3 linked regions of the Homo sapiens genome follow. The protein of the gene in region 1 purifies or fractionates together with the protein of each later gene. This does not show direct contact. Each region holds a gene or a part of one and is shown in the gene's direction. Other genes may lie near its edges.

Region 1 (5,004 bases):
GACCATTCTGGCTAACACGGTGAAACCCCGTCTCTACTAAAAATACAAAAAAAATTGCCGGGCGTGGTGGCGGGCGTCTGTAGTCCCAGCTACTCAGGAGGCTGAGGCGGGTAAATGGCGTGAACCTGGGAGGCGGAGCTTGCAGTGAGCCGAGATCGCATCACTGCACTCCAGCCTGGGCGACAGAGCGAGACTCCGTCTCAAAAAAAAACAAAAACAAAAACAAAAACAAAAAACATAAATAAAATAAAACCATCAGATCTCGTGAGAACTCATCCACTATCACGAGAACAGCATGGAGGAAACTGCCCCCATGATTTAATTACCTCCCACCAGCTCCCTCTTATGACATGTGGGGATTATGGGAACTACAATTCAAGATGAGATTTGGGGACACCGCCAAACCATATCAGTGTTCAAGTTCGAGTGTGCAGTGAGAACCTAAATTTCTAGTAAATTTTACCTAAGATGTATTGGGATTAAGCATGTGACTTTGTTCACAGGGCATCAACTTTCCCACCGAGATACTTTTCACTTCCAAAGAGAAGAAAAGTTTTGGATCATGGAGACAGCAACCCAAAGAGAAGGGAATTCAGGTAAGAACCAAGCAACGATGCATCCTTGTACGTGACCCTTCCATCTGTTTTACTTCTGTCCATTGCCCAACTCCATTGCCCTGGTATAAATGGCCAAACCTGTTTCCTGGATTCTTACCTCCTTCCTGCTGGTTGTCCTGCTCCCCCACCCCCTCTTCCCACCCTGACATCTGTTTTCCTCATAGCAGCCAAAGTGATCCTTAGGGAATGTAAGTCAGATTGCCATTCCTCAGCTTAAAAGCCTTTATGGCTTCTTATTTGTGTTAATGTTACAACTGCTTTAAGTGCCTTTTAGAGACCCTTGATCTGCTCTTCATCCCCTACTGCCTCTCTGACTACATCTCCATTTTCCAGCCACGTTGTACTCCCTGCTGTTTCTCCATCCTGCCAAGGACACTGTATTGCCTGTTGCTGTCACCCAGTGACCACACACTTAGCAGATTAAACAACAAACAATTATCTTTCTGTTCTTCAGATCTGAAGTCTGACACATCTCACTGGACAAAAATCAGGGTGTCCCTAGGGCTTTGTTCCTGTCTAGATGTTCTTGGGGAGAAGCCTTCACTTTAATTTACCAATCCCTAGGCACTGTCCACACTCCTTGGCTCTTGTCTCCCTTCCTCCATCTTCAAAAGCAGCTACATTGCATCTCTAACCATTCTTCCATAGTCATCTGCCACCCTTCTTAAGCCTCTGTTTTCCACATTTTGGGTCCCTTGCGATTGGATTGGTCACTCCTGCATAATCTAGAATGACCTTCTTACTCTCTCTTTAGCTGACTAGTGACCTTAATTGCATCTGCAGCCTTAATATCTCTTGCTATATAACATAACAGGTTCATAGGTCCTGGGAATTGGATGTGGACATCTTTCAAGGACCATTGTTCTGTCTACTACAGAAGCTTCTGTCTTAGAGTTTATATATGCTCTTCTTTCTGATTGGAATACTCTTTCACCTCAAGACCTTCTGACCCTTCCTTTATTCTGGTCTCTGTTCAGTTTTAATATCATGAGAAAGGCCTTCTCTGACCACTCTATTTAAAATACCAGCCGGGCGTGGTGGCTCATGCCTGTAATCCCAGCACTTTGGGAGGCTGAGGCAGGCAGATAGCATGAGGCCAGGAGTTTGAGACCAGCCTGGCCAGCATGGCAAAACCTGACTCTACTAAAAATATAAAAATTAGCTGGGTGTGGTAGCACAGTCCTGTAATCCCAGCTACTCGGGTGGCTGAGGCGTGAGAATCACTTGAACCCAGGAGCCAGAGGTTGTAGTGAGCTGGGATTGTGCCACTACACTCTAGCCTGGGTGACAGAATGAGACTCTGTCTCAAAAAATAAATAAAGAAATATATATATATATATATATATATAGAGAGAGAGAGAGAGAGAGAGAGAGAGGGAATGGAATACCATCCTATCTTTACCCTTCTGGTGTTGTCTTATACTGTGTCTTATATATTTCTATTTAGCTGTCATCTCTACCCACTGGAATGGAATGTCTTAAGAGGAGGACTTTTAGCTGTTCAATTTTTATTTTAAGATTCAGGGGGTACATGTGCAGGTTTGTTACCTGGGTATATTGTGTGATGCTGAGGTTTGCATTGCAAATGATCCTGTCACCCAGGTACTGAGCATAGTACCCAATAGTGGTGGCAGGATAACCCTCAGGTTTTAAGGCTATGTGTACCGGTGTTAGAGGTAGTGGTGATGGGCTGGGTGGGCCAGTCCTGAGGCCCCCACATGGTGTGTGCAGGTGAGTGTCAGCGGTGATGGTGGCAGCAGGCTTGTAGGACCTGTCCTCAGGTCACTAGGAGGAGTATACAGATGCCAGTGGTGGTGATCAGGGCAGGGAAATCCTTAGGTCTCCAGACAGCATGCTTGGGCACCTGCGGCAGGGTTCTGGGTCTGTTGTAAAGCTCCCTGCATGGTACATGCTCATGCCTGGGGCAACCAACATGGCAGGGTGATCTCAACAGCCCCAGGTGGTATGCTTAGGTAGTGGAGGAATGACGCCAGGCCAGGTGAGCCTGTCCTCAGGCCTTTCAGTGGTGCAGGCAGATGTAGGCTGTGGTGGAAGAGGCGGCGTGATCCCTAGGTCCCCAGATGGCATGCTCCAGCACTGGCAGCACACAAGCTGGGTCTTTGTCAGGTCTCCTGTTTGTGCACACATGTGCCTGAGGCAACACAGGGTAGAGCAATCCCCAGGTCCCTCTGTGTCATGCTCTGGCACTGAGATGGGCGGTACCAAGTGAAGTGGGCTTGTCCTGTGCACGGGCACAGGTTGTGGTGGGCAGTGCAAGGGACTCCCCATGCCTTTAGGAGGTGTGCTTGGGTGGCAGTGGCAGAGTGTGCAGAGAAACTTTCCTCAGAATGAGAACACATATGAGTGTACAGTGGCCCTGCTGCTGGGGGTGAGGTAGCATTGCCGTTAGAGGCAGCAGCCCCAGACAGGCAGCTTTCAAGCTCTGGTGAGTGCACACACTTTGGGTCCCTTTGTACTGTACTGGGGGCAGCCTCCCTGGTGTCCTTCACGGCCCATTCCCTAGAGTATGGGACACTATGTGGCCTAGATTGCTGGGGACTCTGCCATACTGCTGGGTCTAACAGGCATTATTGTAACCCTCTGGGTGGATGTGGGGGCATGTCCATGGGGCTTCAGGGATTTGGAGATGCAAAGGCTGTTGGGCCCCAGGGCAAGATGCAGTCTGGTGGGGGTGCAGCTCTCAAAATAGCGCTGTGCCATAGCTGCTTGAGTCTCAGGAAGTGTGTGGGTCCCATCATGAGTACCCTCTCTGAGTGCCATTGCATGGACTCCAGGTAGCCCCCTGTGCTAGTCTCAGGGCCCACAGGGGTCGAGGGCCTCTCTCATGGCTGATTGCTGGAGTGCACAGCGGAAATGTAAACCACTAGGGCTCTCTCACTTACCCTTTCCCAGCACTAGGAGCCTTTCCCGGCTTTCAGGTGATCACGGCCAGAAGGGCTACCTCCCTTCGCTCTCCTTTTGTGCTTCGGGTGTTTCCTGTCACTTCTCTGCTGAATTCCAGTGATCCCTCTTAGATGCTATTTGATGTATGAGTATCTATTTGCTTTTTAAATTTTTTAGTAATAAAATATATAGAACACTTCATGAATTTGCATATCGGCCTTGTGCAGGGGCTGATCATTCCAGTTTTACCATATGTGCTGCTGAAGTGAGCACTACTCATTATTTTGGCTCTTTGTGGAGGACGCAAGCTCTGGGTGTCTTTAGTCAGCCATCTTGAAGTCCTCCTACCCTTAACGTTCCTTCTGATTCATCACATATATAATTTAGTAGTTACATAATATACCATGCAAGATTTTAGACTAACTAGGAAATTGGTAGAAATAGTAACACATTAACTGTATTATATTAATATTTTAAATTAAGTCTTTCATTTCTACCACGTATGAGACATTATGTCATTCAAAATTGGTTTCGTGACAACGAGAGACCGTGGTGCACTTGGAAAACACAAACTGTACCTTCCTTGTATTCAGTAAAGTTTCAGGCCATGTCCTAAGTGAAATCCTGAAAACACTGAACAAAGGTTTCACTTACCCACATCTCTTAATTCTGTGTCCTTATAGGAGGCAAGATCCAAACTGAGTTGGAGTCTGTTCCAGAAACAGGACCACATGAAGAGTGGTCTTGCCAGCAAATCTGGGAACAAACTGCAAGTGAGTTAACTAGACCTCAAGACTCCATAAGTAGCTCTCAGTTCTCCACACAAGGTGATGTCCCCTCCCAGGTTGACGCAGGACTATCTATAATTCACATAGGAGAGACACCTTCTGAGCATGGGAAGTGTAAAAAATTCTTCAGTGATGTCTCCATCCTTGATCTTCATCAACAATTACACTCAGGAAAGATATCCCATACATGTAATGAGTACAGGAAGAGATTCTGTTATAGCTCAGCTCTTTGTCTTCATCAGAAAGTTCACATGGGAGAGAAACGCTATAAGTGTGATGTGTGTAGTAAGGCATTTAGTCAGAACTCACAACTGCAAACTCATCAGAGAATCCACACTGGAGAGAAACCATTCAAATGTGAGCAGTGTGGGAAAAGTTTCAGCCGTAGATCAGGAATGTATGTTCATTGCAAATTACACACAGGAGAAAAACCTCATATTTGTGAGGAATGTGGGAAGGCCTTCATTCACAATTCCCAGCTTCGGGAACATCAAAGAATCCATACTGGGGAGAAGCCATTCAAATGTTATATATGTGGTAAGAGCTTCCATAGTAGATCAAATCTTAATAGGCATTCCATGGTCCACATGCAAGAGAAATCATTTAGATGTGATACCTGTAGTAATAGCTTTGGTCAGAGATCAGCACTTAATAGTCATTGCATGGACCACACAAAAGAGAAACTATACAAATGT
Region 2 (3,500 bases), on another chromosome or scaffold:
TGAAAAGACCCTGAGTGATTTTTTTTTTTTCTTTTTATGGAGATGGGGTCTCAGCCGTGAGTGATTTTGACTGCCCCCTCCTTACTGGGACTTATTGGGGGTACCTACCTCCTAGAAGCAAGAGCTCATTGAGCCAGCCACTCTGGGGTCCGTTTAAGACAGACTGCTTAGTGTCTTCCCCTTGCTCCCTGTCCTAAAGTGGCAAGTGACTCAGGTAGTCCTGAAACATAATGGGAAACCCCAGTTCCTCTGCTTTGAGACGGTTTTTTTTTTTTTTTTTTTTTGAGAAAGGGTCTTGCTCTGTCACCCAGGCTGGGCTATAGTGATGCAATCATAGCTCACTGCAGCCTTGACTTCCCAGCCTCAAGTCATCCTCCTGCTTCAGCTTCCGGAGTAGCTGAGACTACAGGTGTGCACCATCATGCCTGACTAATTTTTTGATTTTTTTTTTTTAGTGGAGATGGGGGTCTTGCTATGTTGCCCAGGCTGGTGTCAAACTTCTGGGCTCCAGTGATCCTCTCAGAGTGCTGGGATTACAGATGTGAGCTGTTGCCCCTGGCCGGAAGGCTTTTGTAGAGGAGAGGCTCACCAGGCCTGGCTCCATTAATGCAGCATCCTCTCCAGGCCCCTTGTTTAAAATCAGTGTCTGGCACTTTTGTCCCATCTAGACCCCAGGTGATAACATGGCAAGGGCCTGTTTTATCGCAGGCTAGAGTCAGAAGGTGTGGAGAGTTCCCCTTGAACTTTTTACCTGGGCTGGAGCCATATTGTGGGAACAGTGAGGCACCATTAACCTGTCTATAGACCCTACCCAACAGCCTGCTGCCTCCTGACTTCTGCACCACAGATAAGTTCTGCCTGTTCTGGGCCAGGCGCGGTGGCTCATGCCTGTAATCCCAGCACTTTGGGAGGCCGAGATGGGTGGATCACCTGAGGTCAGGAGTTCAAGACCAGCCTGGCCAACATGGTGAAACCCTGTCTCTACTAAAAAATACAAAAATTAGCTGGGTGTTTGGTGGGCGCCTGTAATCCCAGCTACTTGGGAGGCTGAGGCAGGGAGAATTGCTTGAATCCAGGAGGTGGAAGTTGCAGTGAGCTGAGATCGCGCCACTGTACTCCAGCCTGGGAGATACAGCGAGACTCCATCTCAGGAAAACAAATCCAGTTCTGCCTGTTCTGGGACTTCATGTAAATGGAATAATCTAGTATGTCATTTTTTGTTTCTGATTTCTCTTATCCAACACTGTTTTTGAGATTTACCTGTTTACGTTCTCAACACCGGGACACAGAGCTCAGCTCCCAACCCCTTTCTCCACTACTGAAACTCATATTCACACCACCTGGCTATGTTCTTTCATTGCTGGGTACTCTCCATACTACATATTTGTTCACCGATTCTTCTGTTGGTAGATATTTGGGATTCCCCTTTTTGGCTTTAACAAAAAATTTAGAGACAGGGATTTCTCTGTTGCCCAGGCTGAATTGCAGTGGTTATTCAAAGGTGTGATCATAGTGAATTGCAGCCTCCAACTCCTGGGCTCGAGTGATCCTCCCATCTCAGCCTCCCTAGTAGCTGGGACTACAGGTGTGCATCAATGTGCCCAGCTCATTTTTGGCTTTTGAGACAGTCTCTCGCTCTGATGTCCAGGCTGGAGTGCAGTGGCGTGATCATGGCTCACTGCAACCTCCACCTCCTGGGCTCAAGCGATCCTCCCACTTCTGCTTCTTGAGTAACTGGGAATACAGGTGTATACCATCACATTCAGCTAATTTTTATAGAGACAGGGTTTCACTTTGTTGCTCAGACTGGTTTTGAACTCCGGGGCTTCCACCTCGGTCTCCCAAAGTGCTGGGATTACAAGTGTGAGCCACTGTGCCTGGCTCATTTTTGGCTATTCTTAATAAGGCTTTTGTGAATATTCTTGTCCACGTCTTTTCATGGATATGTTTCTTTTTCCCTTGGGTAAATAAATACCTAGAATGATGGACTTGCTGGATCTCAGGGATAATGCTTAACTTTGTAAGAAACGGCCACCTGGTCCTTCAAAGCAGCTGAGCCTTTATCCTACAAGAAATATGAGTTCCCATTGTTCCATGTCCTGGCCAAAAATTTTGACTGTAGCTTTTTTATTTGCTAGAAAGTTGGACCAGAGGTGTTTCATAAGCTGATTCAGATGTTAATGAAAGGATCACTCTGCTGTGTAGAGAAGGTTGGTGCAATAGGAGCAGGGAATGAATCCAGGCAAGCACTGAGAGTGGCCTCTGGCTGATGGAGGTGGGAGATGTGGTAGGTGTCTAGGTGTGTTTTGAAGGAAGCAGCAGCAGGATTGGCTGAAGGACTGGCCATGGGGTGTGAGGGAGAAGAGTGAAAGCTGACAGCCAGGCTCTTGGCTGGAGGCCCAGGAGAGGGAGTTGCTGTCTCCTGAGGTGGGAGGCTGCAGGAGCAGGCTGTGGGCTGCAGTGGGTATCAGGAGTTGGGGGTTTGAACTGTTGTGCTTTCTGGATATCCAGGAGGAAGTTACAGCAGCAATGAGGTTATTGAGTTAGGAGTTAGAGCTCAGGGGCTGATGGGGGTATAAATTTGGAGGTCTTTCTGAGCATGTGGGTAGCATTTGGACGAGGTGGTGTGGATATGAGTTTAGGTAGTGAAGAAAGGGGTTGGGAGCTGAGCTCTTTGTCCCAGTGTCGAGAGGTCAGGAGGAATTGCCAGGAGACAAAAAGGGGAGCCTAGTGAGTTCATAAGCAAGCTCAGAGGGGTGTTCACGGAGGGCCTTCTTTTTAAGGCTATATCTATTAGTGTGTTTGGGAGGATCAAGCAAGGAGGGGACAGTGATCATTTAAGAGCATGAGAGCTGCTGGAGTGCCTTACTGTGCAGGTGAGAGGAGGGTCCAGGACACCTGGAAGGCTGGTCCTCGAGTGGGTAGGAGCTACACAGGGAGTTTGGGGGATGGGGTGGTGTGTGGGTCACACTCAGCTGGGTGTCAGGTGAGAGGTGGGTGGTGGGTTGAGGCGGTGCTGGCGGCAGTGAAGAGAGGGTGAGTAGACCAAGGAATTGGGCCAGGATTGCAGGACGGCACCAAGGGCCCTGGGGATGGGTAGTTGGCCGTTTACAATGGGACCCTGCAGCGTAGCTGTGCTCCGTGCTTGTCCCTTAGCTATAGTACACAGTCTGCTCCCAGGACAGGTTTCTCTGTAGAGGGGGAGGGCTGAGGGAGCTGGAGCATGTGTGAGAACAGTGCTGATGCTGGTGGAATTGGATACAGCTGTTTGATTCTAGACGCTGGGCTTTCACCCCTCTAGGATGTCATGCCTCCTCCCGGCTGGGGTGGCTTAGCCCTCTAGGATATTGTATCGTGCCCAGGCTGGGGTGGCTTAACCCCTAGGATATTGTATCGCGCCCAGGCCAGGGTGGCTTAACCCCCCTAGGATATTGTATCACGCCCAGGCTGGGGTGGCTTAGCCCCTAGGATATTGTATCACGCCCAGGCTGGGGTGGCTT
Region 3 (3,550 bases), on another chromosome or scaffold:
AAAAGAAAAAGAAAAGTCCATGGTGTTGCCATAGTCAGTACCCTACCTCTGTGTTATGCTGCATCAATAGTGCATCAGTTATATGAGTGGCTTGAAAACACTATTGATGTTTTCAAGCCACTCATATAAAAAACAAGCTATAAGAGGAATTCAAAGATTTTACAGTTACAAGATTTTTATATATTTTGTTTTGTTATTACAGGAGTTGTAGATCTTATGGCTCTGACAGTGAAAGTGACCGAAGTTACTCTCATCACCGGAGCCCCAGTGAGAGCAGCAGATACAGTTGAAAACGTCCGGATACAAATTATATCTTATTTGTAAATATCTGGCAACTTAGCTTAAGAAATGTAATGACAGTCTGTTGTTCTATTTCAATATCAGAGGTGAATTTCAAAAATAGACACTTCTTAATTGTTACTGGTTCATTTACATGTGGGGAGAAGAATTTAAAATACAGATATGTCTCCTAAAAATATTTTTATGCCACATTTTACAGTAGCCAACTATGGAAATGAATTTCATTTTCTTGAATCAAGAAATCGTGAAATTTATCTATGTATAATTTGCAATATTATTTTAAGTCTATTTCACTCTATCTTACGTATCCCTTAGAATACAGATTCTTTTTGCCTGTTTTTCCAGTTTTAGCATATATGCTGCCAAGCATAGAACTGTGAAGGAGAACTGTTAAAGGCGGCCAAATATTTATATACTGATTACATAGAGTCTTGTACATATGTGCTCTAAAAACAAACCACCCAGAATTGATACTGTTGGTAACCAGGAGTATAAGGCAGTGGCTCTGGGGTTCTTAATTCATTCCTAACTTCTTTGATACTTCACAGGATTAGGAAAGTGGTCATCATACATCCCACACAGTCTGTATTACTTCAGGCTTGTGGGCAAGGTTAGGAAGAATCAATCAGCCTTAACTATAAATACCTGCACTGTCTCTGAGGACTTACTATTTTATGTTCTTTTTAATCAATACCGATCAGAAGTTTAGGTTATAAAAACAATTCTACTTCATGCTTTGGTGCTTGGTAATTTTTGGTGCGTCTTTAAGCATTACTCTTATATATCATATATTAAAATACCATAAAAATGAAATTCAGACAAAATCACTGGCACCAAAAATGGTTTATTCTGAGCTGTCTTCACTTTGACTATTTGGGGGGCTTCTCTCAAGTACAGATGTGGGTTGGGGTCCCCTGGAGCAGGCAGGATTGGCAGTAAGAGATATTGGCCACTCAAGTCTACTGTGTGTGTGTGCCTCTGGAAGAGTGAAGAATGGACTTCAAAAGTAACATCAAAAATCTAACTGCCACCATCCTGGAGACATTTTGCAGGGCTTTCCTTTCAAGTCTTTCAAGTACAGGATATTACCACAACAGCAGCTGAACTGTTGTAACCAGCATGTTTTTCCTATTTCCACTGTGACCTGCAGCTGACTCAAAGCCTTGCGTGACCTGACCCAGGTGCAAGAGACAGGGGAAGAGGGATAGAGGGTATAGCATAAATTACATATTTTCATGGCTTTGGGTGGTTCCTCCAAAAATAATTGGACCTGTAAAAACTAGTGTGTGTGTGTGTGTGTGTGTGTGTGTGTGTGTGGTTTTTTTTTTTAATCTTTACTTTGAATTTGTTCCCCAAGTGTACTTAATCACCTTAGTGCCAGTTTAATCCAGTTATGCAGAAGAAATTCATATTGGTTGCCTGATGTAGAGCTCAGCACCACCCTACCACAGGCCTTGTCTGGTGTATTTGGGAAGTGGAAAAGAGCCCTCAGTTGGAGGGAGCTGACAACCCTTGGTGGAGGGAGGGTGCCCTTGAATGTATTAAAACTATCACCCAAAGAAGGTATGAAAACAGGGTAAGGTGGTCAGTTGTTTGCCAGGTCAATAGACAGAAAGTACATTAGAAAACAGGACTTAGGCCAAACAAACAATACTGGATACTGAATACAAAACAGTATGATTTATATTAAAGGTTTCCAAAGGTTGCCTGCAAAGGAGAATATTACTACTAGTCAGCAGGAAAAAAATGCATTCAGAACCCAAGCAGAAACTGCCAAATGTAATTAGGTTAAGAAAAGTTACCCTTGGGCAGTGTATTAGTTTTCTATTGCTGTGTGACAAATTACCCCAAATTTAGCAGTTTAAAAAACAATACCCATAGCAGTTCTGTAGCTCATGAGTCTGGCACAGTGTGGCTGGATTCTCTGCTCAGGGTCTTAAAGGCTGAAATAAGGGTTGGCAGGACAACATTCCTTCATGGAGGCTCTGGGGAAGAATCTGCTTCTAAGTTCATTCAGGTTGTTGGCGGAATTCAGTTCTTTGCTGGCTCTCAGCTGGAGGCCCCTCTCTCACCTCAAGGCTGCCTGCATTCCTTCTTATGTGGTCCCCTCCAGCTTCAAACCAGCCTTCCTGCTCTTTCTCATGCTTCATATCTCTCTCCCGTCCTCCTGTTTTAGGGGCATATGATTAGCTCAAGCCCACAGATATATTTTAAGGTTGATTGTGCGATAGAACATAATTGCAGGAGTACTGTCTCATCTCATCATATTCACGGGTTCTGGAGATTAGCTCATTGAAAGTGGGAGGGGCATTTTCAAATTCTGCCTACCACAGGCAATAACTGCCCATCTCAGCTGTAGGTGGAATTTTTACCCAGAAAAGATAGGCCCTAGAAGCCTCATTTCTTTTCTCCATGGAAAAGGACAGCCCTCTGCTGCAGCGTTCAACTTGTGTGTTTACTGACAGAGTGAACTACAGAAATAGCTTTTCTTCCTAAAGGGGATTGTTCTACATTTTGAAGTTATTTTTTAATAAAATTGAATTATGTTGTGTATTGTGCTTCTTAATAGGAAATGCATTATTGGACTGTTTTTGTAACATCCTGTTTATTGCAAATAGCTAGTATCGTTCAAAAACTGTATAAAATACTTTTGTACATATTAGCAATGTCTAATTTGTATACACTTCAGTTAAATTTCCCTAAAACTTGAAAGGGGACCTTGTAGAAATTAAAATATATACTTAGTCTAAGTCTGAGTCTGTTCATGTTTTATCTTTCTGCTGACCCAGCCAGTGAAGACACCTCATCTCCTTTGGCAGCTCCTTTTCTTCTCCTAGCTGAGTGTTAGTGGTGGGTGTAGGAGGTGGAGCTAGAGAGAATGTCAGGCAGAGATTTTAACCTACACAGGTAAGCATTAATGATGTTTGGTCTTCCTCCCCTGGAAAATCCAGATTTCCTCTACACTTTGTTGTCATCTAGTTAAAATGACCTGCATAAAGATGTCTTTGCTGAGGGAGGAATATGTCACATCCCATGTGTGAGTTTCTACCTAGAGACAGTCCATTTACCTACAGCCTCTACATTTCCCTCCCTAACGGCAGCGCACTAGGCAGTGCAGCACATGTCACTCACTCCCAGAGAAAACATTCATGGTGATATTTTTAGTATACACATAAGAATTTGCAGGGGAAGTACAATTAACTTTTGTCTCCTCAGAACTGAAAGGAATGTCTATTTTCTTAGTGAATAC

The links. Proteins that work in one complex are often made in the same cells at the same time.
Region 2: the proteins of ZNF284 (region 1) and GINS2 purify together in Homo sapiens (affinity purification with mass spectrometry; one large-scale study listed by BioGRID and IntAct). This does not show direct contact.
Region 3: the proteins of ZNF284 (region 1) and NKTR purify together in Homo sapiens (affinity purification with mass spectrometry; one large-scale study listed by BioGRID and IntAct). This does not show direct contact.

The regions. Positions count from the first base shown.
Region 1 is NC_000019.10:44,081,510-44,086,513, forward strand, and holds part of ZNF284 (zinc finger protein 284), read left to right. Parts: intron 1-503; coding exon 504-596; intron 597-4,204; coding exon 4,205-5,004. UniProt on the Homo sapiens protein: May be involved in transcriptional regulation.
Region 2 is NC_000016.10:85,682,455-85,685,954, reverse strand, and holds part of GINS2 (DNA replication complex GINS protein PSF2), read left to right. Parts: intron 1-3,500. UniProt on the Homo sapiens protein: Required for correct functioning of the GINS complex, a complex that plays an essential role in the initiation of DNA replication, and progression of DNA replication forks.
Region 3 is NC_000003.12:42,645,686-42,649,235, forward strand, and holds the end of NKTR (NK-tumor recognition protein), read left to right. Parts: intron 1-202; coding exon 203-290; 3' UTR 291-3,050; downstream 3,051-3,550. UniProt on the Homo sapiens protein: PPIase that catalyzes the cis-trans isomerization of proline imidic peptide bonds in oligopeptides and may therefore assist protein folding. Component of a putative tumor-recognition complex involved in the function of NK cells.